Linked DNA regions of Homo sapiens: region 2 is linked to region 1. Evidence: fine-mapped expression QTL. A gene starts in region 1. The other region holds a variant in brackets. All regions are shown on one strand. Distances are between the middles of the regions. Region 1 holds the start of LINC02453 (long intergenic non-protein coding RNA 2453). Region 2 holds the start of LOC124902994 (a long non-coding RNA gene).

Region 1 (15,421 bases):
GTGGGAGGATCCCTTGAGCTCAGGAGTTTGAGACCAGCCTGGGCAACATAGGGAGACCCCAGTCTCTACTAAAAATAACCAAAAATTAGGTGGGGCCGGGCACGGTGGCTCACGTCTGTAATCCCAGCACTTTGGGAGGCCGAGGCGGGCGGATCACCCAAGGTCAGGGGTTCAAGACCAGCCTGGCCAACGTGGCGAAACCCTGTCTCTACTAAAAATACAGTAATTATCCAGGTGTGGTGGTGGGCACCTGTAATCCCCAGCTACTTGGGAGGCTGAGGCAGAAGAATCACCTGAACCTGGGAGGCGGAGGTTGCAGTGAGCCAAGATCTCGCCATTGCACTCCAGCCTGGGCAAGAGCGGAACTCAGTCTCAAAAAAAAAGAAAAAAAAAAAATTAGCTGGCATGCTGGTGTGCTCCTGTACTCCCAGCTATTGGGGAGGCAAAAAAAAAAAAAAAAAAAAGAAAAGAAAAGAAAAAAAATAATATACATCAAAGTGGAGTACTTTCTCTTGGATAGTGAGGCACAGGTGATTCTTATTTTCTTTTTATTTATATGTCTGTATTTCCCTAGATTTCCACAATGAACACATATGATTTTAAAACCATATTTTTCTTTTTAAGTGAGAGTGCTAAGTTGGAGAACCATTTGGCTTATCAGAATTCAGGTCTGCATTTCAATTCTGCGTGTCCAAAAGCTCAATTTTATTAGTTCGTCCAGAATACATCGCTCTGTAAACCAAGAGAATCGGAGACAGGTCTCAATCAATTTAGAAAGTTTATTTTGCCAAGGTTAAGGACACACCCATGACACAGCCTCAGGAGGTCCTGACGACATGTGCCCAAGGTTGTGTGGCACAGCTTGGTTTTATACATTTTAGGGAGACATGAGACATCAATCAATATGTTTAAGATGTACAATGGTCCCATCCAGAAAGGCGGGACAGCTATTAATACAAGTGGGGGTTGGGGGGCTCCGGGGTGTTCCAGGTCATAGGTAGATAAAAGACCAATGGTTGCATTCTTTTGAGTTGCTGATTAGCCTTTCACTGAATACACTATTTACAGGAATAGTCACTTATGTTAGTCTGGCTTAGGGAAACAAAAGGGCAATCAGATATGCATTTATCTCATATGAGCAGAGGGATGACTTTTTAAATCTCTATCTGTCCTTTGTCCACAAGGAATTTCTTTGTGGTCAAATTGTGAGGGAGGTATATATAGCTTTTTTATCTTAGTAGCTATCTTTTTTTTTAGGAGTAGAATGGGAGGCAGGTTTGCCCTAAGCAGTTCCCAGCTTGACTTTCCCTTTGGCTTAGTCATTTTTGGGGTCCTGATGTTAGAGGGGTTTGAATCACAGCACCTCCATGTTGAAAAAAGGGTGGGTAAGGCCGTGCACGGTGGCCCATGCCTGTAATCCCAGCACTTTGGGAGGCCAAGGTGGGTGGATCACCTGAGGTCGGGAGTTTGAGACCAGCCTGATCAACATGGAGAAACCCTGTCTCTACTAAAAATACAAAATTAGCTGGGCGTGGTGGCACATGCCTGTAATCCCAGCTACTCAGGAGGCTGAGGCAGAAGAATCGCTTGAACCCGGGAGGCGGAGGTTGTAGTGAGCCAAGATCGCGCCATTGCAGTCCAGCCTGGACAACGAGCAAAACTCCGTCTCAAAAAAAAAAAAAAAAAAAAAAGAAAAGACCTACTGGGCTGCATTCCCAGACAGTTAAGGCATTTTAAGTCACAAGACGAGATAGGAGGTCGGCAGAAGATACAGGTCATAGGCCGGGCACGGTGGCTCACGCCTGTAATCCCAGCACTTTGGGAGGCCAAGGCAGGTGGATCACGAGGTCAGGAGTTCGAGACCAGCCTGACCAACATGGTGAAACCCTGTCTCTACTAAAAATACAAAAATTAGCTGGGCGTGGTGGCGCGTGCCTGTAGTCCCAGCTACTCAGGAGGCTGAGGCAGAAGAATTGCTTGAACCTGGGAGGTGGAGGTTGCAGTGAGCTGAGATTGCACCACTGCACTCCAGCCTGGGCGAGAGTGAGACTCTGTCTCAAAAAAAAAAAAAAAAAAAAAAAAAAAGACACAGGTCATAAAGACCTTGCTGGTGAAACAGGTTGCAGTAGCCTGCCAAAACCCACCAAAACCAAGATGGCGATGAGAGTGACCTCTGGTTGTCCTCACTGCTACACTCCCACCAGCACCATGACAGTTTACAAATGCCATGGCAATGTCAGGAGGTTACCCTATATGGTCTAAAAAGGGGAGGCATGAATAATCCACCCCTTGTTTAGCATATAATGAAGAAATAACCACAAAAATGGGCAATCAGCAGCCCTCTGGGCTGCTCTGCCTATGGAGTAGCCATTCTTTATTCCTTTACCTAATAAACTTGCTTTCATTTTATGGACTCGCCTTGAATTCTTTCTTGTGTGAGGTTCAAGAACCCTCTCTTGTGGTCTGGATTGGGACCCCAGTAACACCGAGATTTTTCTTTCACAGGACTTAAGTAACTAAAATACTCTCAGAAAAGAAAGCAAGGCTATTAAACAGGTGAAATAAATGCTCAGAGCATTCTATAGTAGTGGATAAGTCCTCTTGCAAGAATACATGAATAGACATTTCTTAGTGAAATAGAACAAATCCACAGAGCTGTCTTTTCTAGACAGGTCCATGTTTCAGTTCAAATCCTGACACTTCATAGCTCTTGATAGCTCTTTGTTTCCACCTTTCCTATAAAACTCTTTCCGTATATCATCCCTATATCATGAGTATAGAAGATTAAGTTAAAAAGTGTTGGATTTGCAGTCATTTCAAAGTTATAGAAAGTCATCAGATGGAGCATTCTAAAAAACTACAGATGTCCAGCCTTGGGAAAGAATCTGGGACCTGGGAAGTGACAGTTTTAGAGCCATAACAGTATTAATAATGACATGTATAACAGCTTCAAAAACATTTTGATGTATTTTATCTTATTTGATCCTTTTAACCTGTGGGGTAAGTAGGACGTCTAGTCTTGCCTTGCTTTATAGGCCGGAGGTCCTCAAACTTTAGCTTGCATCAAAACGGCTGGAAGGTTTGTTGCTGTGCCCCACACCCAATTTTCTGAGACTGTAGGTCTGAGGTGAGGCCTGAAAATTTGCATTTCTAACTTATTCCCAGGATGGTGGTCCAGGAACAGTTCTTGGCCATTTTTTAGTCTTTGTGAAGCTGGCTGGATTGTCTTAGTCATGAATTATAGTTCTGCATTGCCCTCAGAATAAAATCTAAATTAGTTGGAATGGCACACTGATCCTGTATGCTGACGCCTATTTACCTCTCCAGCCATTCTGCAGAACTAGTAGTTCTTGACGGAAGCTGTATTCGTTTGCCAGGGCTACCATAATAAAAGTAAACAGATATTTATTTTCTCAGAGATCTTGAGGCTAGAAGTCTAAGATCAAGAGGCCAGCAGGGTTGGCTTCTTCCTAGACCTTGGCTTGTAGATGGCTACTCTCTTGCTGTATCCTCACATGGCCTTTCCCCTGTGTGCACACATCCTTGGTGTCTGTGTGTCCAAATTTCCTCTTATAAATATGACACCAGTCAGACTGGATTAGGGCCCACCCTAATGGCCTCATTTTTACTTAATAATGTCTTTTTTTTTTTTTTTTTAAAAGAGAGTCTTGCTCTGTCACCTAGGCTAGAGTGCAGTGGTGCGATCTCGGCTCACTGCAACCTCTGCCTCCCGGGTTCAAGCAATTCTCCTGCCTCAGCCTCCCGAGTAGCTGGAATTATAGGCACCCGCCACCGCGCCCAGCTAATTTTTCTATTTCCAGTAGAGACAGGGTTTCACCATGTTGGCAAGGCTGGTCTCCAACTCCTGATCTTGTGATCCACCTGCCTTGGCCTCCCAAAGTGCTGGGATTACAGGCGTGAGCCACTGCACCTAGCGTACTTAATCAGGTCTTACGATCATTCTGAGGTACTAGGAGTGAGGGCTTCAACATATGAATGTTGGGGAGATGAAATTCAGCCCATAAACTGGGTGTGGTGGCTCACGCCTGTAATCCCAGCACTTTGGGAGGCTGACGCAGGTGGATCATGAGGTCAGGAGTTCAAGACCAGCCTGGCCAACATGGTGAAACCTTGTCTCTACTAAAGATAACAAACAAACAAACAAAAAAATAGCTGGGTGTAGTGGGGTGCACTTGTAATCCCAGCTACTTGGGAGGCTGAATCGTTTGAACCTGGGAGGCGGAGGTTGCCACTGCATTCCAGCTTGGGCGACAGGGTGAGACTCCATCTCAAAAAAAAAAAAAAAAAAAAAATTCAGCCCATAACAGAAGCCATTTCTTCCCTCTGGCATCATTTGCATATACTGCATATATCGTAGCTTGGACCAATCATGTTAACTCATTTGGACAAAACCATATTTTTGTGATGTAGATGGAGAGGTTGTATCACCTTGTTATAGCCTCATACAACCCAATGTGGAGTTACTGTCCACTGTTTTAGCACCCCCATACCACTCTGTTCATGTTACTTTCATGGTTCTTACCAAGTAACATGAACTTACCCCAACACATTATGGCGTTTGGTGGCTTAACATATCTGTCTCCTGATGCTCAAAAAAACCCATTTTTACTCAGTGTATCCTCATCCTTAGTACTTAGCACAGTATCAGGCTCATCAGAGTTGACAGTCCATAAATACCCGTTGAAATGGATGATCTAATTTTAATCCAAACAGGAGAGGGAAGAACAAACCACACCATGTGCAAATATAATTTCCAGGTATACTGCTACATTAGGTTGAATCAAAAGAAATTAGTGTTTGGTATTTTCAAAATACTAAGCAGAAAACCTCAGGAATTTTACAAAACATATCATCAAAATCTAAAACTATTAATTTCTCATAGTCTTGCTATTCATTTTCTGTTCAACAAATATTTGACACTTACGTGTAGGGCACTATTTAGTACTAAGAGTCCTGGAGCTTGCAAATGTGAACGAGCAAGCTTTGCTTCCTGCTATTAAAGAGATTAATAGTCAAAAGTGGTGACTAGTCATCACTCGCATAATCGGTGAAAACATAAAAGGCGCCCAGTCCAACAGCTTTTCCCACATTCCTCCCCGCCACCCACCTCCAGAAGGAGTCTTGCTTGGTCACCCAGGCTCACTGCAACCTCCGCCTCCCGGGTTCAATCAATTCTTCTGCCTCAGCCTCCGGAGTAGCTGGGATTACAGGTGCACCCCACCATGCCCAGCTAATTTTTGTATTTTCAGTAGAAATGGGGTTTCACCATGTTGGTCAGGCTGGTCTTGAACTCCTGACCTCGTGATCCACCCACTTTGGCCTTCCAAAGTGCTAGGATTACAGGTGTAAGCCACTGAGCCTGGCAGTCACACATTCTTTCAACTGTTTGTTTCCACCTTTATTATAAAGTATTTATAAAGAGGGATCCAGAGTCCCTCACCTGGTTCAGAATCTTGGGTGACCCTTGGCAGGTCACTAACCCTGTGAGCCACAGCCACATTTGTAAAAGTGGGATAATAGTCACACATTGTGAGGTTGTTCACAGTGTTGGCACATGGTAAGGGCTAAGACACTTGATTAGCATAATATTCAAAATTAGAAATTGTACACTATTGTACTCTCTTTCAAAAGGCAAACAGCCTAAAACTGTTTGGAAAAAACAGCTTGTACAGTATATTGTACACTTCCTGTGATAGACTAGTGGACTGATACACCCACTAATGCACAGCAGTAATAGTCCACCTCTTTACACATTATGCATGTTAAGTGACAAAAAAACTCACTTTAAAAGGCCAAATGATAAAAACATCAGCCTTGAGGCTCTTCGATATAGAGTAAATCATATCTTCCTGCAAACCAAGGATTAGTATCATAATACCTGAAAGAGGAAAACTTAATTCTAACATTCAAGAAAATTGGCGGCAGGAATACACCTCGGCTTCTAGTAGTCGGTAGTTTAAAATACAGGAGGAAAAAAAAAAAGTTTGACCCCGACGTGATTCGAACACGCAGCCTTCTGATCTGGAGTCAGACGCGCTACCGTTGCGCCACGAGGTCCTGCTGGGCTGTGGCTCGCGCAGTTTCTTAGGACACCAGTAAATGGCGTTTCTTCCAGGGGTACCAGTCTTTCTCTTCCATTTACTCTCTGCCCCTCCACCCAGTATCTGTCGGACCAGGAGACCGATTCCTTCAGCGTCCAAACTTTCCTGACTGCTAGTCCTCTAACCAAGGCTGGGACGTAACCAGCGGAAGCGGGAGAACGGGGCTTCCCGTTTAGTCGGGTCTCCAGGATCAAAGGAAATTGGCCCTTCCTTTTCTTTACCAAATGATTTCCGTTCTTACCCGCCCTGCCCCCGCCCCGTTAGTCGCGAGACTCCGCCCTCTCTCCCCTCCCCCAACAGGTTCCGCGCGCTGAGTTCGCGACCTCGAGTTGTAATCTGGCGGGGCGCCACTAAGCCGGCGCAGGCCTTCGCAAGATGGCGGCTGGAGGCAAGGGCAGAGGCCTTCAGAGCGTTTTCTTTTTCCCTTTCCTCCCTTCCTGCAAACAATGTAAGGCATTTTCTCTCAGGGGAGGCTTTCACTTCATGGTGGGCATTAAGGTTAAAAGTCACCATTTTGAAGACAGGGTTGTGCACTTAAGGGAGCTGGTTTAGCATATTATGTTTAACAGCAGTGTCCTGTCATTGAATGATACAGAAAATAATAACTGTCGCCAAAAAAGTGCAGCTACACACCTCCCCGTCGGGGAATTGAACCCCGGTCTCCCGCGTGACAGGCGGGGATACTAACCACTATACTAACGAGGAGTCGTTAGGCTGTGTATTTTCTCAGACAGCCCTTCAAGGAGCAGTAAGATCCTTCCAGCGCTCCGTAACCTTCCGCCTGCCCCCGGGAAGTACGAAAGTCCGGTCTCTTGGAGCCGCTGCTTAGGCTTATTGTCCTCTCTGGGCGCTTTGTATTCTTGATGTTGGTGGGAAGAATAAAAGGTGTGGAATATGTGAAGGAAACGCGCTTCCCATGTTAGTGCTAGAGAAGTGTGTGAAAATAGTTTTTCCGAGGCTCTTGACGCGTTCTAAATGATTTAGGTTGCCGTCCTGAGTTTTTTTTTTTTAACTGACCACTGGTATGTGACTTGCGGCTGAGCCTTCCCCTTACAAATTTATACTTTCACTCTGAAGTTCAAGTTCAAGGATAGCATATGGCTGCCAGATGTCGGGGACAGTTAGGGTTGCCACGGTCTCGTGCCTCTTCAAACAATTCATAAGTCTTTTTTTTTTGAGAGGAAGTCTCGCTCTGTCCCCTAGGCTGGAGTGCAGTGTTGCGATCTGGGCTCACTACAACCTCCACCTCCAAGGCTCAAGTGATTCTCCCGCCTCAGCCTCTCGAGTGGCTGGGATTACAGGCGCGCACCACCATGCCTGGCTAATTTTTGTATTTTACTAGAGACGCGGGGTGTGTGTGTGTGTGTGGGGGGGGGGAGGGTTCACCATGTTGGCCAGACTGGTCTCGAACTCGTGACCTTTAGTGATCCACCTGCCTCGGCCTCCCAAAGTGCTGGGATTTACAGGCGTGAGCCACCGCGCCCGGCCAATTCACACACTTTTGTAACACAAAAGCGCCCAATGAAATGACCAGCTGCGGGCAAATGAAATTTTATCAAAATTTTATCAGCCGACTTCTGTTTCGCTCTCTGTAGGTGGCTACAGTTTAACTGGAAGTGACAAACGTAAGTATGTGAATGGCTAAATAATAATGCGTTTAAATAATTCAAAACCAGGATGTGCCACTGATTAAACATATGGGTTAGGAAAGTGCACTAATCGGATAATTTGATAATTTGTGTCATCCTAAACCCGTTCATAGACAGGATGAACCCTCTTCCCAGGGATACTAAGAGAGCCTTATATGTAAACTTTTTTTTTTGAGACGGAGTTTCACTCTTGTTGCCCAGGCTGGAGTGCAGTGGTGCGATCTTGGCTCACTACCACCTCCGTCCCCCGGGTTCAAGCGATTCTCCTGTCTCAGCCTCCCGAGTAGCTGGGATTACAGGTGCCCACAAACACGCCCGTTCAATTTGTGTTTCTAGTAGAGATGGTAATTCACCACGTTGGTCAGGCTGGTCTCGAACTCCTGACCTAAGGTGATCCACCCACCTCGGCCTCCCAAAGTGCTGGGATTACAGGCGTGAGCCACCGCGCCTGGCTATAAACTTTTGATTTTCTCTAAAGGAGTGTGTTTATAGGCACAGATAAACTGACATGATTGAAAGCGTTTCATTATAGAACTTAAACTTACGTGTCTCGTCTCCGACCCAACCAATCAGGACTCCCAACTCACTGACCCCTACCCAACAAATTATCCTTAAAGATAATAAAAATAACAACAACAACAACAACAACAACAAAAACCCCACATATGTGTCTTAAGGAATCCCTTGTTTCTAGTGTGCTACGAATTAATGTATTATCCATCATAAATTATAAGGTATTTTTCATCTGATGGAAGGGATAATTTTTTTAATGCAGATATTAAACAAATGGCAGTTTCTGAGGCTTGTTTTGGCTTTTCTTTCTTTTTTGCTCTCATTATTATTATTATTATTTGAGACGGAGTCTTGCTCTGTCGCCCAGGCAGGAGTGCAGTGGCACGCTCTCGGCTCACTGCAACCTCCGCCTTCTGGGTTCGGGCGATTCCTCTGCCTTAGCCTCCCGAGTAGCTGGAACTACAGGCGCACGCCACCACTCCCTTTTGTATTTTTAGTAGAGTCGGGGGTTTCACCATGTTAGTCAGGCTGGTCTCAAACTCCTGACCTCAAGTGATCCACCCGCCTCGGCCTCAAGCGGCCGCGCTCAGCCCTTTTTCACTCTCTCTCTCTTTTCTTTTTTTGAGACGCAGTTTTGCTCTTGTTGCCCAGGTTGGAGTGCAATGGCACAATCTTGGCTCACTGCAACGTCTGCCTCCCGAGTTCAAGCGATTCTCCTGCCTCAGTCTCCCAAGTAGCTGGATTACAGGCATGTGCCACCACAGCCAGCTAATTTTGTATTTCTAGTAGAGACAGTTTCACCATGTTGGTCAGGCTGATCTAGAACTCCTGACCTCAGGTGATTCACCCGCCTCGGCCTCCCAAAGTGCTGGGATTACAGGCGTGAGCCACCGCGCCCGGCCCCTGTTTCACTCTTAACTACACCGAAAGCCTCAATACAAACTCTCAGTGTGTGGGAGCCTCCTTCCACTTTGATCCTCCAAAAACTTTTGCCAGGGCCAAAGGGCACTGTGATAGCTATGATGACGTCCTTTTCCTAGTAAAATCGAAGGGACTTCCCCAAGTCTCTCAGTTCGTAGAGCTATGGGGCAGTGAACCCAGTTCTCCTGAATCAACTGTTTGCCCCGTGTTCTGCACTCTCGGGAAAAGCAGCTTCATCTCTTCCTTTAGAAGAGACATCCTTTCCACTGAAGCTCTCGTAAAGCTATGCCAGTGCTCACACACGTGTTGTTACTGCTCCTTTTTCATCCCTGGTGAAAGTAAGAGGCAGTCTGAGTCAGTGAGATCAGGGAGCAGGGAACGCAGCACTTGCTGTCCATCATCCGAAAATGGAAAGGAAAAGAGAGGGCAATTAACCTGAACAGGGTGAGGGAGCTCAGAGGTTCCTCCCTGTCAGCACTGGGCAAAAATAAAGGTTAAAATCTGACTGGCAGTACAGAGGGCATGGAACTCTCTTCGGGAATAAATGGCATGATGACAATGAGTGTTATTCAAAGTTTCAAATCCTGCTCTTCCTAAAGAACTATGCTGCATATCTCAGCTTGCTAAATGATTCACATTCATTTTATTTTCTCAACAACCTGTTAGGTCAATGGGACAAGTGTTTTTATTCCTATTTGGGAATCTTCTGCAGGATCACACAGATAGGAGGTGGTGAAAGGCCAGGAATCACCCAAGCTCTGACTGCAAAAACCAGTTTTCACCCTACCTGCACAGTTCCATATACATGTATATTAACAAATAAGTACATGCTATGGAGAGAAAAACTTTATAACTAGTATCAACATATGTGTCACCCTTGTTCCTATATTAATATTTGCTAATCTTTAATTACTTGGCAGACACTGTAGTTATTCATTAACTTATTGAACCTGCAACGTGCCAGACATTCTTTTAGATGCATGGGGAGGTTCTCATAAATACATCTTGTTCTTCTAGATCTTTTATCCTACAGAAGAAATACAGATAATAAACAATGAATACGATAAATGGATACAAACATCATACATAAGTATGTCAGACAGTTATAAGAGCAGAAATAAAAATAGCAGAGTAAGGGGGTTTGGAGAGTAGCAAGTTAAATAGGTCAAGGTAAGCCTCATGAGAGGGAGTTTTGCTCTGTCACCCAGGCTGGAGGGCAGTGGTGAGAACTTGGCTCACTGCAACCTTGGCCTCCCGGGTTCAAGCGATCTTGTGCCACAGCCTCCTGAGTAGCTGTGCCACAGCCTCCTGAGTAGCTGTGCCACCACACCCGGCTAATTTTTGGTAGAGATGGGGTTTCACCATGTTGGCCAGGCTAGTATCGAACTCCTGGCCTCAAGTAATCTACCCACCTCGGTCTCTCAAAGTGCTGGGATTACAGGCATGAGCCACCGCGCCTGGCCAAAGGTATAATTTGAACATAGTTGAAGGAAGTAAGAGATGTAGTCATGCAGCTGTCTGGGAGGCCTGAGGGCCTTAGAGGTCATTGGAAAGACTTTGGCTTTTATAATTAGGGAAACGGGGACCCACTTCAGGGTTGTTGGATTTTTTTAACATTAAGAAAATTGATACATAGTAATTATACATATTTATGGAGTGCATGTGATATTTTAATACATGCATACAATGTGTAATGATTAAATCAGGACATTCAGCATATCCGTCACCTGCAACATTTATTATTTCTTTGTGCTGGGAATATTTCAAATCCTCTCTTATAGCTATTTTGAAATATACAATAAAGTATTGTTAACTGTAGTCACCCTACTGTGCTATTCAACACTAGAATTTATTCTTTTCTTTTTTTTTTTTTTTGAGACAGAGTCTCGCTCTGTTGCCCAGGCTGCAGTGCAGTGGCTTGATCTTGGCTCATTGCAATCTCCGCTTCCCGGATTCAAGCCTCAGCCCCCACTAGTACCTGGGATTACAGGCACGCACCACCACACTTGGCTAATTTTTGTATTTTTAGTAGAGACGGTGTTTCACCATGTTGGCCAGACTGGTCTCTAACTCCTGACCTCAGGTGATCCACTCGCCTCCACCTCCCAAAGTACTGAGATTGTAGGCATGAGCCACCGTGCCTGACCTAGAATTTATTCTTGCTATCAGATTGTATGTTTATACCCATTAACTAACCTGTCTTCATCTCCTTCACCTTGCCCTTTCCTAGCCTCTGGTAAGTATCATTCCTCTCTAACTTCCTGAGAACTGCAGGGTTTTGAACAGAGTAGTGATATGGTCAGATTTATGTTTTAAAGGGTCTTTGGCTGGGCAACATAGCAAGACCCCATCTCTACTAAAAATTAAAAAAAATTAACTGGGTGTTGTGGCTCACACCTGTAGTCACAGCTACTTGGGGAGCTGAGGTGGGAGGATCACTCGAGCTCAGGAGTTCGAGGCTGCAGTGAGCTATGATCATAGCTCTGCACTTAAGCCTGGGCAACAGAGTGAGACTGTCTCAAGAAAAAAAAAGGATCTTTGGCTACTGGATTGAGAGTAGTTTGTAGGAGGGCAAGAGCAGAAACAAGAACTATGAAGTCTATTGCAATAATCCATATGGGAGATGTTGGTGGGTGGTTCAGGCTACAGTGAAAGTGATGGAGAAGGTGAGAGGCGCTGATGTACTTTGTTTATTTTTTTGAGACAGGATCTCACTCTGTCACCCTGGCTGGAGTGTAGTGGCGCAATCAGGGCTCACTGCAGCCTCAACTTCCTGGGCTCAAGAGATCCTCCCACCTCAGCCTCCTGAGTAACTGAGACCACAGGTGCATGCCACCACGCCCAGCTAATTTTTGTGTTTTTTGTAGACTGTTTCATAATGTTGCCCAGGCTGGTCTCGAACTTCTGGGCTCAAGGGGTCCTCCTACCTTGGCCTCCCAAAGTGCTAGAATTACAGGCCTGAGCCACTGTGCCTGGCCCCAAGTGCTATGTATTTTGAAGGTTGAGTCAATAGAATTTCTTGGTAGAGTAAATGTGAGATATGAGTTAAAAAGAGGAGTCAAGGATGCCTCCAGAATTTTTGGCCTGAGCAACTGGAAGGATGGAGTTGCCATCACTGAGGTTGAGAAGAGTAATGCACAACTCCAGAGGGCACCATTCATATTGGCAGTCATGTGAAGGGCATAACTGGGAAGAAGTTGTTAAAATAAAAACTTCAGCTGAATTAAATGTAAAGGAATTTGGCCAGGAGCAGTGGCTCACGCCTGTAATTCCAGCACTTTGGGAGGCCGAGGTGGGAGGATCACCTGAGGTCAGGAGTTTGAGACCAGTCTGGCCAACATGGTGAAACCCCGTCTCTACTAAAAATACAAAAATTAGCCGGGCATGGTGGCGCGTGCCGGTAATCCCAGCTACTTGGGAGGCCGAGGCAGGAGAATCGCTTGAACCCGAGAGGTGGAGGTTTCAGTGAGCAGAGATCAAGCCACTGCACTCCAGCCTGGGCGACAGAGCAAGACTCCATCTTAATAAATAAATAAATAAATGTAAAGTAGTTTATCTGAGCAATAAACTATTCGCGAATCGGGCAGCCCCCAGAATCACAGCAAATTCAGAGAGACTCCAGGGATGCCTGGTAGTCAGAACAAATTACAGGCAAAAAAAGGGAAGTGAGGTACAGAAATCGGAAGTGAAGTACAGAAACAGCTGGATTGGTTACAGGTTGGCGTTTGCCTTATTTAAACACAGTTTGAACACTCAGCAGTGTATGAGTGGTTGAAGTATGGCTGCTGTGATTGGCCAAGACTCAGCTATTGTTAGAGTCGTATACTTCTAAATTAGGTTTTCAATCTTGTCTACCCATTAAGTTAGCTTATGGTTGTCCATAAGGACTCAAATATGGAAGTACGGAGTCCTTCTCTGGCCATATTTAGTTCACTTTAACAGAGGCAAGATGCCATCCATAGACTGTGCTGTGGATGGCACTCCTTGGAATTGTGCACTATGGCAGCCCTGCATGTGGAGTAATGACCCTGGTGGGAGCAGGGGGATGATCAACATTTCAGTTTTGGACATGTTAAGGTTGAGACATGAAGTAGTCAGTTGAATATAATGGTTGAACACTCATTGTGTAGGTAAAACACAGTACTAGGTTCTGGAGATACAGTGATGAACAAAGACCCTGGTCTCAAGGAGCTTTTATTTCAGTGGAGGAGACACATAACACTAGTAAAAGAATAACAAAAATAAAAAAGTAAAATTACAGGCCGTGTGCAGTGGCTCACACCTGTAATCCTAGCACTTTGGGAGGCCGAGGTAGGCGGATTGCCTGAACTTAGGAATCCGAGACCAGCCTGGGCAACACGGTGAAACCCCGTCTCTACCAAAATACAAAAAATTAGCGGGGCATGGTGGTGGGCACTCCCAGCTACTTGGGAGGCTGAGGCAGGAGAATTGCTTGAACCTGGGAGGGGGAGGTTGCCGTGAGCAGAGATCGTGCCACTGCATTCCAGCCTGGGCGTCAGAGCGAGACTACGTCTCCAAAACACACAAACCAAAAAAAGTAAAATTACAACTGTGACAGTTACTAAGATAATGGGGAAGAGCAAAGGAAAGAGCTTCTTAGGTAGATGGAACTGGATGTGCTAAGGTTGTAGGAACAGAGGAAATGTGGTGAGTAGAGGGTGTGAAAGAAGGCAGAAGTGACTAGAGAGGAGCAGAGGGTGAGCAGCATCATGGGGAGATGAGGCTGAAAAGGCTGATGGGAGTAGGACAATGCAGGGCCTTCCAGGCTGTGTTGAGAACTTTTGGGGGAGTGCCTCTTATTTCTGTCTGTCTGTCTGTCTGTCTGTCTGTCTCCACTTACTTATTTACTATTTTTAGGGTTTATTGAGGTATAATTTATGAGGGTAAAATTTACTCTTTTTAAGGGTACTAGTCTATGAATTTTGACCATAATTAAGATGTAGGCTGGGCACAGTGGCTCGAACATGCAATCCCAGCACTTTGGGAAGCTGAGGCAAGAGGATCATTTGAGTCCAGGAGTTCGAGACCAGCCTGGGCAATATGGTAAGACCCCCCTCATCTTTACAAAAAATACAAAAATTACCAGGTGTGGTGGCATGTGCCTGTGGTCTGGGCTACTCAAGAGGCTGAGGTGGGAGAATTGCTTAAGCCCGGGAGGCAAAGATTGCAGCGAGCTGAGATTGAGCCATTGCACTCTAGCCTAGGTGACAGAGCCAGACACTGTCTCCAAACAAACAAACAAACAAACAAACATACATTTATCCTAAGATCCAGCAACACTGCTCGTAGATATTGACCTGAGAGAAATGAAGACATATGTCCACAAAAAACCCTGCACACTTATGTTTATAATGGCTGTATTTATAATAGTCAAAAACTGGAAACTACCCAAATTTTGGAAATTTGAGTTTAATAGATTATGGGAAATTACAAGAACTTACTGTCCATAAACATTAAAATTGAAAGGTGAATGTTTTTGATTTGGGCCTGGAAGGCAAATTAGATGGATACATGTTTAAATTATTAAAGTGAGGGGTGGGGAAGATATTCGGGATGCTCATACTTCACTATTCCCCAGTCTTTATTTATTTATTTATTTATTTATTTATTATTTTTTGAGACAGAGTCTTACTCTGTTGCCCAAACTGGAGTGCACTGGCGCCGTATCGGCTCTGCATCCTCTACCTCCTGGGTTCAAGTGATTCTTCTGCCTCAGTCTCCTGAGTAGTTGGGATTACAGGTGTGCACCACCACGACCGGCTAAGTTTTTTGTATTTTTAGTAGAGACGGGGTTTCACCATGTTGGTCAGGCTGGTCTCAAACTCCTGACCTCAAATCATCTGCCTGCCTTGGCCTCCCAAAGTGCTGGGATTATAGGCATGAGCCACTGGGCCCAGCCTCTAATTTATTTAAATAATAATTTAAAGTTAAAACTGAGAGGAGGTGGGTGGACCTCGAGGTCAGGAATTCAAGACCAGGTTGGCCAATATGGTGAAACCCTGTCTCTACTAAAAATACAAAAATTATCTGGGCATGGTGGCATGTACTTGTAATCCCAGCTACTGGAGAATTGCTTGAACTGGGACCCTGGAGGCGTAGGTTACAGTAAGCCGAGATCACGCCACTGCACTCCAGCCTGGGCGACAGAGCGAGGCTCTGTCTCAAAAAAAAAGCAAAAAACAAAAAACTGAGAGG
Region 2 (16,430 bases), 28 kb after region 1:
ATAGTCAAGATGTGCCAAGCACAGACAAAATCTAGGTCAGATTCACCAGGCCTCAAAAAGATGGTCCAATGGCAAAGGGTATCTTCGAGATGGCTCCTGTGATGTCTGCATCTTGTGTCACATTGCTCCCATCTGGATTGACTGTCCTCTGCATCTGACACATAGCTGTCATTCAAGGACCTCTTTTTATCATCCTCCTGAGGACCCTTTTTATTTCTCTCGTGTTGGATTGCTTCTTTCTTGCATCTCATTTCTTCCTCTTTACTCTTAATTCACACTCTCTCTTGCTTTCGTCTTATTCTGGTGGAGTCAATCTTCTTGAAATTTCTTGAGAATGGGTACACGGAAGTTAACTTTTTCAGACCTTTTATGTCTAAAAAACTTTTTTTTTTCTTTTTCTGTTTTTTTTTTTTTTTGAGACGGAGTCTCACTCTGCCACCTGGCTGGAATGCAGTGGTGCGATCTTGGCTCACTGCAACCTCCACCTCCTGGGTTCAAGTGATTCTCCTGCCTCAGCCTCCCAAGTAATTGGGATTACAGTCACCCACCACCACGCCTGGCTAATTTTTTTTGTATTTTTAGTAGAGACTGGGTTTCGCCATGTTGGCCAGGCTGGTTTTGAACTCCTGACCTCAGGCAATCTGCCCACCTTGGCCTCCCAAAGTGCTGGGATTACAGGTGTGGGCCACTGTGCCCAGCCAAAAAAAACCTTTATATTTTTATTTTTAGAGATAGGGTCTTGCTCTGTCACCCAGGATGGGATGCAGTGATGTGATCATAGTTTATGGTAACCTTGAGCTCCTAGGCTCAAGGGATCCTCCTGCCGCAGCCTCCCAAGCAGCTAGGATGACAGGTGTGAGCCACCATGCCTGGATTCAATTTTATGTTTATACTTGATTGATAGCTTAGCTGAGAATATAATTCTAGTTGGAAGTTATTAGCCCTCAAAATTTTGAAGGCATCATTTCACTTTCATTGTGCTGGATTGTCTGTTGTCCAGCTATACCTCTCCATTATCCCTTCTAGAGTCCGCTCTGCATTAAAGAAGAGAAACCTGTAGTTACATGTGACAGAATCCCCTCCTTCATTTGATTCCAAGTTGGAGTTTGCCAATGAGAGGCACTTGTGTGAGAAGGAAAGCAGAAAAGAAAAACCATTATTCAACAGAGGCAGTTGAAGGCAGACACATGGGCTGAAGGCAAAATCTTGAGAGTTTCCTGTTTTGGTGCTGTCAGCAGCTGGGATTGAAGGCAGTGTCTTGCCTTAGATTGCTGAGATTTTTCCATGGCTTGCAGGTGAAGTTATGTGAATCACTGACTTCTACTGGCTGCTCTCCTGACCATCACATCCTCAACACTTAGTTTTATTTTATTTTATTTTTTTTTGAGATAGAGTCTCACTCTGTTGCCCAGGCTGGAGTGCAGTGGTGCGATCTCGGCTCTCTGCAACCTCCGCCTCCCGGGTTCAAGTGATTCTTCCACCTCAGCCCCCTCAGTAGCTGGGCTTATAGGTGCATGCCACCACGCCTGGCTAATTTTTGTATTTTTAGTAGAGACGCGGTTTCACCATGGTGGCCAGGCTGGTCTCAAACTTCTGACCTCGTGATCTGCCCGCCTCGGCCTCCCAAAGTGCTGGGATTACAGCTGTGAGCCACTGCGCCTGGCATTATATTTTTATTTTTTATTTTTATTTTTTAATTCTTCATGGTTACAAAATGCCTGCTGCAACTGCAAACATCACATCCGTGCATGATGTCTAAATTAGGAAAAAGAGAGTACAGACGCTCTTCTTCATGCATTCGTCTTATTTTATGAGGACCATAAATTGTTTTAAAGTTAGACCAGAGTGATTGGGCAAATTTATATACCTACCTGATGCCTACCCTAAATCACAGCAAAAGGAAAGGGAAACCATCAGGATTAATTAGCTGGGGCTGGGGGAAGAGCATATTTCTGCCTATGCCTGCACAAGTTGAAGCTCTTTGAGCAAGAAATAATGGGAAATGGCTGTCAAGAAGGCAACCAACTCTGTCTGCCATGTTCCTCATGTAAGGATACCGCATGTAACATGGCAGACTGTTGATCAGTGGACAACCAGTAGGAAAAATAAGATTTTAAAAAGTGTTCTAAATGCCTCACAATTATGTAATGTCATTTAATCCATCAGTAGGAGAGATGACGAGGATGACATTTTATGAGAATGAAATATCTGACAGGAATTAGCAAAAGTTTCAGAGTTTGGCCTTAGGAATAAAGTGAAGACAAAAGAATAAGAATTTGATTAAATTCACAGTTAGAACCAGATATATTACATTAATATTAATAGCAAAGGAAGCAAAGAAAGAAAATATATCCAAAGGGTAAAATGTATATTTGAAGTGTTTTGGGATTTCTACTCATGAAAGAAATGCTTCTCAGTTGGGGGAAAAGTCAGCAGACCTCTCTATGTAGCTGACGAGTTTAGCTAGTCCTGCTACTTTTGATGAATTATTAGAAGACTCACCCACTTAGAAAAAGTGTGTGCATTTAAAACAAATCATTAATAATGAAATTGATTGTAGCTTGTGAAAAACAGAACAAACAGATCTCTGTACTTCTGCTTGAAATATTAGTTCCTGAGTTTTGAAGAGATTGTGCCAGTCAGGTTATTAGTCCCATGTAACAAAACTTTGGCTAGTTAAAGCAGAAATAGGCCGGGTGCAGTGACTCACGCCTGTAATCCCAGCACTTTGAGAGGCTGAGGTGGGCGGATCAGGAGGTCAGGAGATCAAGGCCATCCTGGCTAACACGGTGAAATCCCATCTCTACTAAAAATACAAAAAATTAGCCAGGCGTGGTGGTGCGTGCCTGTAGTCCCAGCTACTCGGGAGGCTGAGGCAGGAGAGTTGCTTGAACCCAGGAGGAGGAGCTTGCAGTGAGCCGAGATCGCGCCACTGGACTCCAGCCTGGGTGACAGAGTGAGACTCCACATCAAAAAAAAAAAAAAAAAAAAAAGAGAGAAATACAATTTATTGAGGTCTAACTTAAAGCTCACAGAAACTCTGGGAGGGCCAGAATTAGGCTTGGCAGCTTGACAGTCAGAAACAAATGACTTGGTGGATACAGCAAAGATTTCATTACAGTGTCTGTCACTGAAGACCCTGTTAGAACACCCTCCCCTCCACTGCTGTCTGCTGTGAAGACCTTCATGGGAATGGCACCTCCACTGGAGCGCTCCCTGGAAGCATGGGTTCTGTGCACTGCCTGTTTTCTCATACTGTTCTTCTGCAAATTGAATCTTCATATGGGTGTATCTGGGTAGTAAGGCTTGTGCCACAAGTCAGCATGCCAGCTGCAAGAAGGGCTGAGAAGTCCAGTTTCTGATTTCCACCTTTGATGGTGAGACTTATAATGTGGAGAATTCCCCAGACATGGGAATTCTGAGCAAAAGATGCTGATATGATTTGGCTCTATGCCCTCACCCAAATCTCATCTTGAATTGTAATTCCCAATGTTGGGGGAGGGACCTGTTGGGAGCTGATTGGATCATGGGGGCAGTTTCCCCCCTTGCTATTCTCATCATAGTGGGTGAGTTCTCACAAGATTTGATGGTTTAAAAGTGTGTAGCACTTCCCCCTTTTCTCTCTCTCTCTCCTCTGCCATAGTAAGATGTGCTTCCTTCCCCTTCACCTGCCGTGATTGTAAGTTTCCTGAGGTCTAGTCATGCTTCCATACAGCCTGTGGAACTATGAGTCAATTAAACCTCTTTCTTCATAAATTACCCAGTCTCAGTTCTTTTTTTTTTTTGAGATAGGGTCTCACTCTGTCGCCCAGGCTGGAGTGCAGTGATGAGATCTTGGCACACTACAGCCTCTACCTCCAGGGCTCACGCGATCATCTTGCCTCAGCCTCCTGAGTAATTGGGACTACAGGCATGCATCATCATGCCCTGCTAATTTTTGTATTTTTTGTAGAGATGGGGTTGCGCTATGTTGCCCAGGCTGGTCTTGAACTCCTGGGCTCAAGCGATCCTCCCACCTTGGCCTCCCAAAGTGCGTGTGGGTAGTGGGTGATCAGGTAGTTCTTTATAGCAATGTGAGAATGGAACAGACTAATACAGCATCTGTGAATAGAACACATGTCAAATTGAGTAACAAACAGGCTTAAGAGCATGGAGTCAGGTATACCTTAGTTCAAGT[C/T]CAGCCCCATAGCTTCCCACCTGAGTCATTCTGGGTAACTTCTCTACCTTCGTAAGCCTGTTTCATCATTTGTAAAATATGTATGATAATAGTGGCTACATCACAGGGGTGCTGTTAAGATTAAATGAGATAGGCCAGGCACGGTGGCTCACATCTGTAATCTCAGCACTTTGGGAGATCAAGGCAGGTGGATCCGTTGAGTCCAGGAGTTTAAGACCAGTCTGAGCAACATGGTGTGACCATGTATCTACAAAAAATAAAAAAATTAGCTGGGTGTGGTGGCATGCACCTGTAGTCCCAGTTACTTGGGAGGCTGAGGCAGGAGGATCACTTGAGGCCATGAGTTCGAAGCTTCAGTGAGGAATGGTTGTGCCACCGCACTCTAGCCTGGGTGATAGAGACCCCGTGTAAAAAAAAAAAAATTAAATGAGATAAAGCATAAAGCACTTAACCTAGTGCTTGGCGTATGGTGAATAAGTCACTGATTACAAACTTATATTACTATTATTATTGATCTTCTTATTGGTATTGTTACTGGTGTTTATGTAGGACAATCAAAGCTGATGATATAAAATGTAACCATTATAGTACATTAGGTAGTTTTTGTCCCAGAAATTACAGTTTGGGAATTAAATTCAGAGCTCCCTTTTCTGGTTTAAAAAAGCCAAGAAGGATTAGTACTAATATTCTGATAATTTATAAATGCCTCTCTCATACTCACCATCTTCCTACATCTTCCTCCTGCTTTATCTGTTTTCCATTACAATCACAGAATGCCAGTTTTAGGTCAACATATGTTCTTGGCTGCATGCAGTGTCTCATGCCTGTAATCCTAGCACTTTGGGATGCCGAAACAGGAGGATCTCTTGAGCTCAGGAGTTCGAGTCTGCAGTGAGCTATGATTGCACCGTTGCACTCCAGCCTGGGCAACAGAGTGAGACCCTGTCTCTAAGAAAAAAAGAAAAAGAAATCACAATGTAGTCACTTTTATCACCATCTATTGGTATAAGGGAGTCACTAAAACCAAACCAAATTTGAGGGTAGGTGAATTAGACTCCACTTCTTGAGAGGAGAGTGACAAGGTCACATTGCCGAAGAATGTATGGGATAGAAGATATTGTTGAGGCTTCTTTGGAAAATGCAATCTCCCATAACCTGATGGGGTGAGGGTGATTGAGCCTATTTCAGCCTGGCATTGAAAGCTTGGTATGTTATTACATGAGAAAGGCAGGTTATAGAACAGCACGTATGGTATGATTCCATTTTTGCTTACAAATATGCAAAGTCATATGTGTATGTGTGTGCATGCTTGTGTGTGTGCACGTGGGTAGTGGGTATGATGTGTCAAGGACAAAAAATGGGTGTGTTAGTCCATTTTCACACTGCTATAAAGAACTACCTGAGCCTGGGTAATTTAAAAAGGAAAGAGGTTTAGTTGACTCACAGTTCTGCATGGCTAGGGAGGCCTCAGGAAACTTACATTCATGGTGGAAGGCAAAGGGGAAGTAAGGCACGTCTTACATAGCAGCAGGAGAGAGAGAGAGCAAGTGGGAAACTGCCAAACACTTTTAAAACCATCAGATCTCGTGAGAACTCACTCACTATCATGAGAACAGCACGGGGGAAACCAATCCCATGATCCAATCACCTCCCACCAGGTCCCTCCCCTGACATGTGGGGATTACAATTTGACATGAGATTTGGGTGGGAACACAGAGCCAAACCATATCAGTGTGCTAGAAATGTAACTTAATTATTTTCTAAAACTCAATTTGTGATTTATTTTCCTTTCTTTCCTTTCTCTCTTTCTCTTTCTTTCTTTTTTTTTTGAGACAAAGTCTCGCTCTGTCACCCAGGCTGGAGTGCAATGGCATGATCTCGGCTCACTGCAACCTCTGCCTCCTGGTTCAAGCAATTCTCCTGCATCAGCCTCCTGAGTAGCTGGGATTACAGGTGCGCACCACCACGCTTGGCTAATTTTTGTATTTTTAGTAGAGACAGGGTTTCATCGTGTTGGCCAGATTGGTGTCGAACTCTTGACTTCAAGTGATCCACCCGCCTTGGCCTCCCAAAGTGCTGGGATTACAGGTGTGAGCCACTGCACCCGGCCTCAATTTGTGATTTCTTTCCCCATATTTCTACGTCCAGAGTCCATCTCCTGCCCATTCATTCTGATACAGAAAATGACACTTAGTTGCTTCCAGATAATCACAATTGACTTAAGTGGTTTCTTAGTCACTGAAAGTCCTAACACTTTAGAATAGTTTCTTCTCTGGGGTGGGGAAGTGGGGGGAGCTGGTGAGGGGTAAGGCAACCATAGTCTTAGAAACCAAAGCAGTTAATTTTTTTTTTTTTTTGAGATGGAATTTCGCTGTTGTCACCCAGGCTGGAGTGCAATGGTGTAATCTTGGCTCACTGCAACCTCTGCCTCCCAGGTTCAAGCGACTCTCCTGCCTCAATCTCCTGAGTAGCTGGAATTACAGGCACAAACCACCATGCCTGGCTAATTTTTGTATTTTTAGTAGAGACGAGGTTTCGCCATGTTGGCCAGTCCGGTCTCAAACTCCTGACCTCAGGTGATCTGCCTGCCTCAGCCTCCCAAAGTGCTGGGATTACAGGCGTAAGCCACTGTACGTGGCCTAGTTAACATTTTATATATCAGCTTGCTACATATGCCTAGGAATGCTACAAATGTACATTCTGGATTATAAGAAAATATGGGACTGTCCCCCATTTCTTTTTGTCTGTATTTCTAACTTTTATACTATAAGGACATATATTATTTATATATATGTATATATTATGTTATATACTATTTATATGCTGTTTACTTATAGGATTAATTTTTCAATCCACATAATCAGGATTGATCAATATTTTTTAATATCAAATAATCCCAGGATATAAATCTAATTGCTATAATACAATAGCATTCAATTAATCATTAGTGTATTATTGCCAATGGGAAATTTAAGAAGCATATTTAAAAGAGTAGAGTTATAACTCAGTTGAACCTCTGATTAATTTTATCAGAAGAGATGAAGTCATTGGAGGAAGAGTAAATGCTGTTTAGGGCCAGCTCCTAGTTTAGGTTAGCTTAGATTGGTAGGTTTTAACTCACTTAGTGGGTCATTCCTAGGACAGAAGAATCTTAGGCTCTTGGCCTGGAGCTGTTGGTTTGCTCTAGGGTAAAAATTTGGATCCTAGTCAGATTACAAATTTAGTTAAGTCTCATATAGTCCCTGAGGGAGGGGAGATGGGGGTGCTGTTTTTCTTCGCAGTTTCTGCAGTTGCTTCAGCCTGGAGCGTGCTGTTGCTGCCAGGAAGACAGGCCTGTCTAGTGTAATCTACGAGAGAGAATGCTTGGCATTCCTGGACAATGAAGCACAGAGAGAAAATGAAGATTCCCTGAGAGGTGCCAATCTCCTTGAAAATAAATCAGATTTCAGCCTGGGCAATGTGGTTAAACCCCGTCTCTACAAAAACTACAAATATTAGCTGGGCTTGGTGGCATGTGCCTGGAGTCCCAGCGACTTGGGAGGCTGACGTGTGAGGATCACTTGAGCCTGGGAGGCAGAGGCTGCAGTCAGCCAAGAGTGCACCACTGCACTTCAGCCTGGGTGACAGAGCCAGACTCTGGCTCAAAAAAAAAAAAAAAAAAAAGAACAAGAAAAATAAATCAGAAAATCAGATTATTAGGAGAGCCCTGGGAGAGGAGGATGTGCAATTGTGTGTGTGTGTGTGTGTGTGTGTGTGTGTGTGTGTGTGTGTGTGTGTGTGTGTGTGTGTGTCTGTGGTTTTAAAACAAATTGAAAAACTTGATGGGAAATCATAGGAAAGCTTATATAAAGGGAGGATCAGAGGAAACTTACAAGCTGCTGAAATCTGTATAATATCAGGATTTAAGCCACGGAGATAATCTAGGAATGAACTTTTTAGATAGAAAAAAAGGTGATGTGTTTTTCTTGAATAGACCTGTTGATTTGTTCATTCAGGTTTTTTTTTTGTTTTCTGTTTTTTTTTTCTAGAAACTCAAGACCTGCTCGTGTAAACAAAACCTTAATAACATTTTGATTTCTAAAGGTTTATGTTCATTGTTTCTAAAGTTTTAATAATGAGGAAGGTGAAAAAAATTTATTATTATAAATATCAATTGCAAGAAATCATATTAAAACAATGTCCTTAAAGTTTAAGATTTTTCCCACTTCAAATTCCTGGAAATGTAAAAACACAATCTTTCAGTTTTTCTTGTTGAAATAATAAAGTGTTCTGAATAAATCTACTGATTTTACATAGAGTTCTATGGCTTTGATACTATAAAATGAAATGGTTTGAGATTGAAATAATTCAATTATTTTAAATATTCCTGCAGTTCTTAAGTGTGTAGCCTTATTGGGAACCTAAAGTGGAATAAGACAATTGCCTAGTGTCTGTATTTATAGTGTAGGTCCCTGTTGGAAAATTTCATTGAGGTTTCTTTTTCTTTCCTTCTATTTTTTTTCTTTCCTTTTTTTTTTGTTTTTTTTTTTTTTTTTGAGACAGGGTCTCAATCTGTTGCCCAGGCTGGAGTATCCACCTGAAGCCTCCACTTCCCTGGCTCAAGCGATTCTCCTACCTCAGCCTCTCGGGTAGCTGGGATTATAGGCACTTACCACCATGCCTGGCTAATTTTTTAATTTTTCTGTAGAGATGTGTTTCACCATGTTGCTCAGGCTGGTCTTGAAGTCCTGGCTCAAGAAATCCACCCACCTCGGCCTCCCAAAATGCTGGGATTACAGGTGTGAGCCACCGCGCCTAGCCCCAACTCACAGTTTTTAATTGCTGTGAATACTCCATGGTGTGCATCATTAGGAGGAGAGCTTTTTAAGGAGGCAAGAGAATTTGACAAACGTGGTAGAGATGGTCAGTAAGAAGGGTTACACATTGGGAGATTTAGTAGTATGGAGGCCAGTGGCAATGTTTGGTGGAGCAGGTTCTTGGGGTCGTGGGGGTAGAAGCCAGACTGCACCGAGCAGAGGCCTGTTTGGGAGGAGAGCAAGTAAGACATTGACTACACTCAGCCTGCGAGGGAAGCTGGACCATCCAGGGAAGGAGCAAGGGGATGCAGAATCAAGGAAGAGCTTGGAATTTTTAAGCTTTTGTTATCCGAATAATCCATGTTCAATGTAGAAAAATTAGGAAATTCAGATGAGCAGAAAGAAAATAACAAAATGGAAAGTATATTCATTTCTTAGGGCTACCGTAACAAATTACCACAAACTGGTGCCTTGAAAACAACACAAATGTTTTTGTTTCTGTTCACATTGTTCTGGAGGCTATCTGAAATCAGAGTGTCAATATGGCTGTGCTCCCTCTGAAGGCCCTACGGGAGTACCCTTCCTTGCCTCTTCCTAGTTTCTGGTGGTTGCTGGCAATTGTTGGTGTTCCTTGGCTTGTAGCCACATCCCTCCAATCTCTGCCTCCATCATCACAGGGTGTTCTTCCTGTGTGTCTCTTCTGGGTCTCTGTTTTCTCTTATAAGGACACCAGTCATTAGATGAGGACTCATCCTAATCTAATAGGATCTCATCTTTTTTTTTTTTTTTTTGAGATGGAGTCTCTGTCACTCAGGCTGGCGTGCAGTGGCATGATCTCGGCTCACTGCAACCTCCGCCTCCTGGGTTCAAGTGATTCTCCTGCCTCAGCCTCCCAAGTAGCTGGGATTACAGGCATATGCTGCAACGCCTGGCTAATTTTTGTAATTTTAGTAGAGATGGGGGTTTCACCATGTTGGCCAGGCTGGTCTCAAACTCCTGACCTCTGGTGATCCGCCCACCCTGGCATCCCAAAGTGCTGGGATTACAGGTGTGAGCCACTGCGCCCCACCAAGACCTCATCTTAATTTAATTATATCAGCAAAGACCCTCTTTCCAAATGTGGTCACATTCTGAGGTTCCAGGTAGACATGAATTATTGGGGAACACTATTTGACCTAGCATTTCTTTTTGCTTTCTTTTTTTTTTTTGACACAGGTCTCGCTCTGTCACCCAGGCTGAGGAATGCAGTGGTGCCATCTTGGCTCACCATAATCTCACCTTTGAGGCTCAAGCTATCCTCTCACTTCAGTCTCCTGAGTAGCTGGGACCACTAGTGCGTACCACCATGCCAGGCTCATTTTTTTTTTACATTTTTGGTAGAGACAGGGCTTTGTCGTGTTGCCCAGGCTGGTCTTGAACTCATGGGCTTAAGCAATCTGCCCACCTTGGCCTCCTAAAGTGCTGGGATTATAGGCGTAAGCCACTGCGCCTGGCTAGTATATTCTTTTCCCCTCTCCCCTCCTCTCTTTCTCTCTCTCTCCCTCTCTGTCTCTCAAAGGATGAGGGGAAGCATGAGTGTGTTTATAGATTAAATGAAAGAGTTAGGAGAAAAGAAGAGGTTGGAGATAAATCTTAGATACTTGGTAGGTCAGAGTCTCAGCAGAGAATGGAGAGGTGGGTTGGAGAGCACTGGGGAAGGGGATGGGCCTGGGGCCTGCCTGGGTCACACAGCCTTGCCTGGTCACTGACTCCCAGCCTGATGCGGAATTACTCTCCTCAAGAGCACCCTGCCTAGGTACAGCCTTTCACGGGTCAGCCTTAGCAAAGGCTGTGATGGGAGGGAAGAGGAACATGCCCCAAATGGGATCAAATGCAGGGCTCTGGGAGAGAGCTGACTGGAAGGATGCTTGCATCCTACCCTTCACCTCCTCTCTGGGGTTTCAGGAAAACATAATGATCATAATGATGTTTTTATGTTTCCTGTGATGTTGGTCATCTTCCCCTCCGCAACCCCTGCCTCCCTTCAAGTTTTGCCTGCATCTTATAAACTGGAAAAACCCAAGAAACTCCTAAGTTCTATATAGTTCAGTAGTAGGTAGTGGCCTCTGCCAGTCGGAAAATCCCAGAAACATGGCCAGTTTAAAACCAACACTTGGCCGGGCGTGTGGCTCACGCCTGTAATCCCAGCACTTTGGGAGGCCGAGGTGGGAGGATCACAAGGTCAAGAGATAGAGACCATCCTGGCCAACATGGTGAAACCCCGTCTCTACTAAAACTACAAAAATTAGCTGGGCGTGGTGGTGTGTGCCTGTAGTTCCAGCTACTCAGGAGGCTGAAGCAGGAGAATCGCTAGAACCTGGGAGGTGGAGGTTGCAGTGAGCCGAGATCATGCCACTGCACTCCAGCCTGGGCAACAGAGCGAGACTGTCTCAAAAACAAAAAACAAACAAACAAAAAACCCAACACTGGAAATGGAAATGGACTTATCATTACGGCCCTAGTTCAGCACACACAAGATGTATAGGGAAACCAGTATGATAGGCCTGATGACCCTGGGCAGGTAGTCAAGGGTAAAGTTTCTTAGGTGATGAGAGGCCTGGTACTTCTAGTCTCTAACATGCATTCTTGAGCAGGGATGTGATGTACCCTACAGAGGACACACTGGCCACTGTAGCTGACAACACAGGGAGACCAAGGCCAGGGCAGATGTGCGCAGGACCTTGAAGGCAAGAGAGTTAAAAAAAAAAAAAATCCCTATCTAAGTGGGAGGAGCATCTCCCACTCAGTGCAGTGAGCTGCAGGCATTCATCAGGTGTTCAGTGAGTTCTGATTAGGGACCGTGCTGGCCTTGGAGCTATAATGAGGAACACGTTGTTCCTGCTCACACAGAAACTACAATATTTTGGGGTGTGTATTAGTTCAGTTTCTTTTGGCTTTAGGAAGCAGAAATGACCTTGCAAGCTTGTTGGAGGAATATTAGAGGTTCTTAGAGAATTCGCAGAAGACAGCTTGGGGCCCCTTACTAGCCAGAGGCTAATAACATCCTCTGAAGAGTGCTATTATTTGTGTGAAGGAGTTTCAGTGTCCAATCTTTGTATGACTCAGTCCCAAATTGCTACAGGGAGACTGTGGCCCAGCTCGAGTAAATCATCTGTGGTTCAGGGCTCAGGGTTATGAAGTACACACATGGTTGTCGCAATCCTACCTGTGTGTATTGAGTGCATCCCCACTTCCTTCCCTCTCAGTTGAGTGCCCCAGCGATGGGCAGAATGCATGAACCTGAAAGCCACTGTCTTCTGGACAGAGAGGTAGACAGGTAGACAAGCACCCAGCAATTACAGCTCAGTCATCAGTGCTGTGCTAGGGGAAGCATAGAGTTGTGTGAGAATACATCAGTCAAGACCCATTTGGAGGAAAGGTTTAGAAACCCAGCTTATTATTTTTTAGGGGTTGTTGCAAGTTTTGTTTTTCTTCCAACTTTTAAGTTCAGGGGTACATGTGCAGGATGTGCACGCTTGTTACATAGGTAAATGTCTGCCACGGTAGTTTGCTGCACAGATCAGCACATCACCTAGGTATTAAGCCCCAGCATCCATTAGCTATTCTTCCTGATGCTCTCCCTCCTCCCACCCCCACCCTCTAGAACCCCAACTTAAACCAACTTAGGCAAAAAGAAGGGGACTTACTGGAAGGCTCACACTGAGAAGGATGAGTGGCAGGTGGTATCAAGGTCATTGGAACAGGTGATTTGAGTGCTGCTAGGTCTTCTTTTCTCAGTCTCTCAATTCTGTTTCTCTCTCTGTGTTGTTAACTTCTTTCTCTTAGAAAAGCTTTCTTTACATAGCAAGAAATGTGGCCACTAGCAGTTCCTGAGTCTCACCATCTCCTGGCCTCACCAACAGAGAATAAATAAATCTTTGTTCAGCTTCAGTTACAAAAATCCTAGGGAATGACAAAGATTGATTGGCTTTAGATAGGAGTCCATCCAGCCGGGCGCGGTGGCTCATGCCTGTAATCCCAGCACTTTGGGAGGCCGAGGTGTGTGGATCACCTGAGGTCAAGAGTTCTAGACCAGCCTGGCCAACATGGTAAAACCCTGTCTCTACTAAAAATACAAAAATTAACTGAGCATGGTGGCAGGCGCCTGTAATCCCAGCTACTCAGGGTGCTGAGGCAGGAGAATTGCTTGAACCCAGGAGGCAGAGGTTGCAGTGAGCCGAAATCATGCCATTGCACTCCAGCCTAGGGGACAAGAGCAAGACTTCGTCTCAAAAAAAAAATAAAAAAAAATAAAATATATGAGTCCATCCCTACATCAATGAAGTGTACCTAGAGAAGTAGAATAGTGTAAAACCATATGCCATACTAAAGCTGTATGATGATTTAATGACAAACCAAAATGATTGACATCAAGTACTTTAGGTTAATAGTCCTGTACTAGTTATCTGTTGCTGCATAATTAATTACCTCCAAACTTAGTGGCTTAAAACAACAATAAATATTTGTGATTTCACATAGTCTCTGTGGTTTGAAATTTAGGACTGACTTAGCTGGGTGGGTCTGTCTCAGGGTCTTTCATGAGATTGCAGTCAAGGTGTTGACTGGGTCTGCAGTCATCTGAAGGCTTGACCAGGGCTGGTGGATGCAGTTCTAAGATGGCACACAAGAGTGAGCTCACTCAGTTCCTCCCTATGTGGGTCTTTCCACAGGCAGCTTGAGTGTCCTCATGACACGGTGGCTGCCTTCTCTCAGGGTGAACAAGCCAAGAGAGTGCAAGGTGAAAGCCACAACATCTTTAATGGCCTAGCCTTAAAAATCACACTGTCTCATTTCTGCAATATTCTTTTCATTACACAGGTCAGCCCTCTTAAATGCGGGAGGGGTCACACAAGGATATGAATCCTAGGCTGTGAGAATCACTGGGGGTCATCTTGGAGGCTGGCTACCACATTCCCCAAAACTCATTCTGTAGAATTGGGATGTTAAAAGTTTTTATATGAAGAAGGGCTTTGCAGTCAGTCAGTATTAGAAAGGATACGTTAAAGCAAGTTAAATAGATTTCTTTCTCTCAGTCATTCTATACAGTTTTTAGTACTCTGACTCTCACTTTGAATCTTTCTCTCTCTTTCTCTTTCTTTTCTTTCTTTCTTTCTTTCTTTCTTTCTTTCTTTCTTTCTTTCTCTCTCTCTCTCTCTCTCTCTCTCTTTCTTTCTTTCTTTCTTTCTTTCTTTCTTTTTTTTTTTGACAGAGTCTCACTTTGTCACCCAGGCTGGAGTGCAGTGGCATGATTTCGGCTCACTGCAACCTCCTCCTCCCAGGTTCAAGGGATACTTCCTGCCTCAGCCACCCGAGTAGCTGGAATTACAGGTGTATGCCGCCACACCTGGCTAATTTTTGTATTTTTAGTAGAGATGGAATTTCATGGGGTTTCACCATGTTGGCCAGGCTGGTCTCGAACTCCTGACCTCAAGCTATCTGCCTGCCTCGGCCTCCCAAAGTGCTGGGATGACAGGTGTGAGCTACCGCACCCGGCCTCACTTTGAATTTCTGAAAGAGGGACAGAATAAATAACCGTAGCACAGCTTCCTTCTTTTTTTCTTTTTTCTTTTTTCTTTTTAGAGCTGGAGTCCAGCTGGAGTGCAGTGGCATGATCTTGGCTCACTGCAACCTCTGCCTCCCAGGTTCAAATAACTCTCATGCCTCAGCCTCCCAAGTAGCTGGGACTACAGGTGTGCACCACTACGTCTTGCTGATTTTTGTATTTTTAGTAGAGACGGGGGTTTCACCATTTTGGCCAGGTTGGTCTTAAACTCCTGGCCTTAAGCAATCCACCTGCCTCGGCCTCCCAAAGTGCTGAGATTACAGGTGTGAGCCACTGCGCCCAGCCAGCACAGCTTCTTTCTCATTCTCCAGCTTTTCCCCCAGTGGGCCTTTCTCCGCTCCACCATCTCTCTTTCCTTCCCTCTACAAGCATATCAGACTGCTGTCTGTCTCCTGTTAAAAATATAAGCTTCTGGCCAGGTGTGTTGTCTCACACCTATAATGCCAGCACTTTAGAAGGCGGAGGTGGGAGGATTACTTGAGTCCAGGAGTTTTAGACCAGCCTGGGCCACATAGTGAGACCCCTGTTTCTACAAACAAAATAAAAAAATTAGCTGGGCATGGTGGTGGATACTCGTAGTGCCAGCTTCTCAGGAGACTGAGGTGGGAGGATCACTTGTGCCTAGAAGGTTGAAGCTGCAGTGAGTCATGATCATGCCGCCTCTCTCCAGCCTGAGTGACAGAATGAGACCCTGTTTAAAAAAAAAAAACAAAACAATGCCAGGCGCGGTGGCTCACGCCTGTAATCCCAGCACTTTGGGAGGCCAAGGTGGATGGATCACCTAAGGTCAGGAGTTCGAGACCACCCTGACCAACATGGAGAAACCCCGTCTCTACTAAAAATACAAAATTAGCTGGGTGTGGTGGCACATGCCTGTAATCCCAGCTACTCGGGAGGCTGAGTCAGGAGAATCACTTGAACCCGGGAAGCGGAGGTTGCAGTGAGCTGAGATTGCACCATTGCAGTCCAGCCTGGGCAACAAGAATGAAACTCCATCTCCAAAAAACAAAACAAAACAAAGAAAAAGAAAAATAAGCTTCTGATAAAGCAATACAGTTTCATCTGGAGTTGGTCATTCTTGACCCTCCAAAGCCTTCTTGTCCATTTGGTCAGTGCACATCATGAAAACCTAGGAGTGATTAAAAAGGAAAGGAACACATTGTCACATGAAGGTGGGTAGTCAGTCTGAGGAAGTTCTGCAAGAGAAATTTTACAAAGCTCTCTATATTGGCCATGGTGTTGGGTGATATTGAGTCATAAAGTAACGAATACTATTTGAAGGCCAATAATCATTCACACATGAAAGTTTGGGCTGCCTCTTTAAGATATGTTTGTGTGGGGGAAACAAGGTACAGGTTAGTAACATCTTGTACTTTGGTTTTTGCCAACAAATACGAGACCTTCCAGTTTTAGGACTTACCCCGTCTCCTCTCATCAGTGTGACTGTTGTTATTTCTTTTGTGTAGGCTATTTGTCATGACAACAACTCAGTTTATTTAAAGTGTTTTATCATATTTCTGTGAGCTGGTTATACCATCTTGAATTATTTAATTCAGAGTAAACACTGAGGTGGTGTGTATGTGAAAGAGTCTACACCATATGTGTTTATGGAAATGTGCTTATTGAGATGTCGTTTCCAAGCACGGCATCTGCTCTTGTGCATCTTTTATATTATTTTGCATGGAGCCTATACAATGATTGATCTCCACCATCTGATAGTTTTCCTTTTAAGACAGTTTCCCTTCTTATGTTCTTGATAAATGATAATGTTTAATATTTGGGAAGAAAAAAAGCATCTAAATTAAAAATAAGAATGATCAATAAAAATGTCTTCTGAGTTCTTTAATTTCCATTA

What was found. PIP is the estimated chance that this variant, and not a neighbour inherited with it, causes the effect. A credible set is the group of variants that fine-mapping cannot tell apart.
Region 2: its variant is the best candidate, but not a certain one, in a credible set for the expression of LINC02453 in whole blood (INTERVAL, PIP 0.80).

The regions. Positions count from the first base shown.
Region 1 is chr12:98,494,909-98,510,329 of GRCh38, reverse strand. LINC02453 (long intergenic non-protein coding RNA 2453) reads left to right here and starts at 6,475. Exons shown (of 4, transcript NR_038383.1): 1 at 6,475-6,570; 2 at 7,718-7,747. It overlaps TRD-GTC1-1 (tRNA-Asp (anticodon GTC) 1-1), which reads right to left and starts at 6,827; the gene lies at 6,756-6,827. It overlaps TRW-CCA4-1 (tRNA-Trp (anticodon CCA) 4-1), which reads right to left and starts at 6,078; the gene lies at 6,007-6,078. RefSeq lists enhancers at 1,418-1,961, 6,118-6,417, 6,428-6,737.
Region 2 is chr12:98,466,575-98,483,004 of GRCh38, reverse strand. LOC124902994 (a long non-coding RNA gene) reads left to right here and starts at 6,010. Exons shown (of 2, transcript XR_007063420.1): 1 at 6,010-6,130; 2 at 8,206-8,455. RefSeq lists an enhancer at 13,533-13,902. The variant C/T (reference allele first, on the strand shown) is at 4,178.